Linked DNA regions of Homo sapiens: region 1 is linked to region 2. The links come from fine-mapping of genetic effects on gene expression. Tissue or cell type: lung. Region 2 holds a variant in brackets; the other region holds the start of a gene. All regions are shown on one strand. Distances are between the middles of the regions.

The links. PIP is the estimated chance that this variant, and not a neighbour inherited with it, causes the effect.
Region 1: it holds the start of SLC26A1, and the variant in region 2 is fine-mapped to the expression of SLC26A1 in lung (GTEx, PIP 0.95).

The regions. Positions count from the first base shown.
Region 1 is chr4:991,826-994,502 of GRCh38, reverse strand. It overlaps SLC26A1 (solute carrier family 26 member 1), which reads left to right and starts at 1,099. Exons shown (of 3, transcript NM_022042.4): 1 at 1,099-1,202. All of the region lies in intron 2 of IDUA (alpha-L-iduronidase), which reads right to left. RefSeq lists enhancers at 139-950, 951-1,762.
Region 2 is chr4:1,478,291-1,480,967 of GRCh38, reverse strand. No RefSeq gene overlaps it. Among named protein-coding and RNA genes, the nearest start is that of NKX1-1, 73 kb to the right of the region's middle. The variant G/T (reference allele first, on the strand shown) is at 1,009.

The sequences.
Region 1 (2,677 bases), 490 kb after region 2:
TCATGCCACTGTACTCCAGCCTGGGCAACAGAGCGAAACTCCGTCTCAAAAAAAAAAAAATTAGCCGGGCGCGGTGGCGGGCGCCTGTAGTCCCAGCTACTCAGGAGGCTGAGGCAGGAGAATGGCGTGAACCCAGGAGGCAGAGCTTCCAGTGAGCCGAGATCACACCACTGCATTCCGGCCTGGGTGACAGAGCAAGACTCCGCCTCAAAAAAAAAAAAAGAAAAGGTGGGGGGCGTCTCACTATGTTGACCAGGCTGGTCTTGAACTGCTGGCCTTAAGCGATCCTCCTGTCTAGGCCTCCCAAAGTGTTGGAATTACAGGAGTGAACCATCGTGCCTGGCTAATAATTCCTTTTAAAAAGCAGCTTACCCTTATTTTCACGTGTGGGCCTAATTTAGTTCACTTAAAAAAATCATTTATCTTCACCCCAGCCCTATGAGGCAGGCACTGCCGGTCCTGGTCTGTGGTAGAGGGGAGGGCAGAGGAGCCGTGAGGGTGACCAGGCGCTGTGGGTCGGTGCTGGGTCCAGTCAGACCAGGACTCCTGGCCAGTCACGGCACCTTGACCCCGGCAGTCCTCGCCCTGGGCGGTGAGCACCACACACAGGGCTTACGCGAGCACACACGCATATGCACGCACCGGCAGCCTTGGGCTGAGCCGGCTGTCAGCCTCTGCCCTGCTCCAGCTTGGACCAGGCTGGCTCCTTGCAGGACCAGGAGGGTGTCCGGCGACTGGACACGGAGACCAAGCCTCCCTCAGCCCCGCCTGGGTTTGAAGGCTGCTGCACTCGACCCCAGACCCCAGAGCTGAAGGTTTACCTGTGCTCAGCCCCTGAGCCCCCGCCTCCCGCTGGTCCCTAAGCCCCCCCGGCAGGGCCGCAGAGCCACAGCTGCAGCGGCTCCTGGGAGGCTGGGAGCTCCTCAGAGGCCCACACAGCTCTAACTCCTACAAGCCCCTGATTACAGTTCAACTCCCGGATCAGCCGATCAGGTAACATGGCTGGAGAAACCCATGACTCAGCAATCTGTAGGTAAATAATTGAACTACAGAGTCCAGGGCACAGACCACTGCCTGCAGGTTGGCGCCACCACCCCCACTCTCCCCGCTGCTCGCGGGAGCCAGAGGGCCCTGCGGTCCTCGGTGGTCTTGCCAGCCCCTCGTCATCCCAGGGCCCTCCGCGCCTGTGAGGACTCCCTCAGGTAAGAACCATCCTGGGCCCAGATCTCAGCTGCAGCAGAGGGGGGCGTGGGAGCCGAGGCCAGAAATGCCCTGGACTCGTGGTTTCTTAGGGGCACCCTCAGGCTCAAGGCAGGTGGCCCTACTGTCCCCATTCCACACACCTGGACCCCAGGGGCTTGGGGTGGGCTTCAGGGCATCCAGGGACCCAGTGTGGTGGGGTCTTCCAGGGAAGGGGACACAACTCTTGCAATGTTGCCTGAGGGCCAGGACCCCCGCTCTGTGCCCCAGGGGTGCTGTGCCCAGCCTGCATGTGTCAACCTACCAGGCTGGGCTCACTGCCCCAACACACCCGCCAGGAGACTGGAGCTCGCACACCCTGGGCCAGCGTGCAAACAGCAGGCTCAGCCCAGGCTCCAGGGTGTCCTGGGCACCTGGTGTCCTGGGAGCAAAGTCTTTGCCTAACGTCGCTGAGAAGAATGTTTAAAGTGAAAGTACATTGGAGTCTGCAAACAGGACAGACCCGAGGCCTCACGTGGGACCAGTCAGGCCTCTAAGCACCGCCTCCCTAACGCCACGGTGTTTTCCGAGATCAAGGGAAAGGTCAGGTGCCCTTCCGGCTCTGCCGGCCCAGGGTGACTGTGTGCAGCGGGCTGGGCCCTCTCGGTGCTGCCTCGGGACAGTGTGTCATGGCCGTTCCACAGTGAGCTGGTGCAGCCTGGGAAAAAGGGCGCCTCACGTCCCAGAACTGTCTGGGCAGGGGAGACAGACGCCAGTCACCCTCCTCCCCTCCCAGCTGGCCCTGATGGGGCCCCCGTCCAGGCATATTCTCAGAATTCTGTCCCAAGTCCAGGCGGATGGGCTAGGCTAGTGTCTGAGTGCTGCTCCCCCAGCAGACTTGGGGTCCCAGTACCCACAAAGCTTGGCAGGGACATAGGAGGCCTCTTCCTGAGACTTCCGCCAGCCCCAGGACCCACAGGGCAGGTGACAGAGGGGTGGGTGGAGGTGTCTCCAGGAGAGCAGGCGATGGTTTGGATGGGGGAGGGAGGGCTCTGGTGTGGGCATGGGGTGGACAGCAGGACCGTTTGCCAACCTGGGGAGCCAGGGAGGTGGACACGGAGCAGCTGGACTCAGGCTTGCCTGCACCTGTGTCCAGTGACTGTGACATTCTGACGGTAGGCACATGTGCGTGGTGGCAGCCCAGCCTGTTCCTGCCCCGTTGGGGAGGTGAGCTTCAGGAGGCTACAGGGTGGTTTTCAGCCAGGAACCGCAGAGCCAATAGGCCGGAGCTGAGCCTGGACAGGGTGCCGCCACGCCGCCCCTCAGCACTGCTGGCCTCAGCACACCCCATGGCATGGGCTTGGTGTCGTAATCCCATCTCACCTCACGATGGATTCTGGATCCAGCAGGGCCCAGCGTCCATCCATACCGGGCAGGGGGCTGGGGCCCGCGCTGCCAGGAGAAGGCCCAGCACCAATCCCCGGCCCTGGGTGGGCGA
Region 2 (2,677 bases):
TGGCCCTGGTGACAGCTTCCTGCCCTCATCCATCAAGCCCACCCTGTGGCCAGCCCTGGGGCTTTGCCACCCCCAGTGGGTTTCCTTGTGGCTACCTGGTGTGTGTGTAGCCTGGGTGGCTGGGTCCAGTAGGAATCAAGACTGAATGACCCCCCCTACCCATGGAGGGTATGGGCTAGGAGCAAAGACAGGTGCTATGTTCTGAATGTGACTGCAAAATTCTTGTGTTGAAACTTAGTCACCAATGCAATTGTATTAAGAGGTAGGGTCTTTATGAGGGGATTAAATCAGGAGGATGGAGCCCTCATGGATGGGATTAGGGCCCTTATATTATAAGAGGGATTGAGGGAGTGGTTTTGCTCTATTCTGTTCTTCCACCATGTGAGGACCCAGCAACAGAGGGCCATTTTGTGAGCAGAGAGCAGCCCTCACCGGACATCAAACCTGCTGATGCTTGATCTTGGACTTCCCAGCCCCCAGAACTGTGGAAAGTGAATTTCTGTTATTTATAAATTGCCCAGTCTGTGATATTTTGTTATAGCAGGACTAAGACAACAGTCAATGAACAAATGATTCTATGAAGGAGAAGAAAACACAAAGATGATAAAACTAGGCTGTTTCTGTCACTTGCTGATTAGATGGACCAGCTGGGTGGAGAACCCAGCAGCAGCTGGACCACTGTATTGTGAGCTTCCAACACAGGGAAGCCCTCTACCTTGGGCATTTCTGTGTTTCCCACACAGTGTTGCTCCCAGGGGCAGCCCCAGTGCCTTCTGGCTGGGGATTGGCATCTTTGGGAGGGCATGGACCATGGCTGCCCCATTGCTGCTGGGGTCCTGGTACATACTGGCACAAATAACGTGCTAGTAGCTCCTTGGAAGAATAAACTCTTCCCTCTTCCTGTCTGCAGTCTGTTAACTCACCCCCTCTCTCTGCCAACTGGGACTGTGATCACATCGCAGACACCCATAGTCTAGCCTGGGGTAGAATGGAACAAGCCACGTGAGG[G/T]GCCATGAGTCAGCTCACCCCAACAGATTCAAAATCTTGGCCAGAGGAGAGCAGCTGGAAGTGGGAGCTAGTGTCAAGCATCAGTGACAGGCATGGAGAGGTGCAGCCCACGGCAGCAGGACTGACAGGCCTCTGGAACAGACCAGGCAACACGACGCCCCCATGTGATCTCTACCTGGGATCCCCCTCATGGCTCTCTGCCCACACTGGATACTCACAGGAATGAGCACTACCTGGCTGCAGCACCCCCTCCAGGTCACCATCTGGGTCCACCCATTACAGCATCGGCGCTGGAGACGGGCACGTGCTGGTCCGTGCAGATTCCACTCTTCTCTATTCCACTGAAGGCAGGGGCAGTCCCCTCCTGGAGGTTGGGATTGGGTTTGGGGGCAGTTTGGAGCTTGTCTGGCAGCTTCTCTGGCAGAGCAAGGCCACATCTGCCCTGAAGTTAGGAGCCAGTCTCTGAAGACTCTCCGTAGGCCCTATGCCACCCGTTCTCTCAGGCCTAGGTGGGTAAGAGGTGCCCTAAATAGGGACTGATTGGAAAGTGGATGATGGCAGAGCCAGCAGCCAGGAGGGGGGTCCATTGGCTGATGGCTTCCCTTTCACCAGTGGCTCCTTCTTTTTCTAAATGGGCACCCCCATCCATCCCCAAGCCATGGAGGACATTGAAGGCAGCCTTAAACTGTCCCTTCCTCCTCTGCTGGGGCTGGCAGCCACCCAGGTAGGCTCCCTCCTTGACAAGGCTGTGCCCCCTGAAAGGGCATCCTTAGAGCCCTGCTCCTGATGGGGAAGCCAAGCACTTCTGTGGACAAGAGCCCTGGAAGGGAAGGGTGAAGAGTCGGCCTTGGGTGGAGGCTCAGCTGCATGCCTTTCCAGGGGGTGTTGGCCTAGGGAGCGGTCCCGTCCTTACCTGGGCTAGGTTCCCAGGCTGCCCTGTGAATTCACACGTCCTCCTCGCCCCTACACAGCCAGCACCAAGGGAAATCAGCCCCAGGCTATGGTGACAGGAAGTCCCCCTTCCCGCTCCTGCAGATGCTCCTGGGATGGCGCCAGTAATCTCAGCTGAGATAAATTCCCAGGCAGAGGATGGGCCTGAGGGACAAAGGCCGCCTGGAGCAGGAACGGAGCTAAAGCAATAAGGAAAGGCATAATGGCCCCGCACTTTTAATTTGTGACTAATTTGTTGCACAATGAGGTTGCAATTTTCTAATTGTGATTGCCATTTTAATTTTACTCATGGCTGTGCAACCAACAATGTATAGTCTAGTAATTAAAATTAATTGTACCTTCACCTGCATATTTCTATTAGGCTGTTAAATTTAGTCTGTAAGCTCAATGATTCTGTTCCCTGAAAGATGCCGAATTCATTTCACTGAGCCTGATTCTGCCACACTTGGTAACTCCCCACTCTGAAGGTGGCCTTGCCTTCTGATGAGGGGACGGGGCCATCTCTGCCCCAACCCCTTGGCTCTTGGCAGGCTAGGGGAGCTAAGCTGTCAAGGGCTTTAGCTGAGCCTACAAGTCTATTATTTGTTACACTTCTAATGAGTTATTAGGTTCTTAAATTGTATGTAGGGATTTCATGAATAATCTTGGAAGACACAAATGGGCTTTCTCCACCAAGTTAAGTCCATGTATGACTCCCATGGTTCTTGCTGGACGTCAT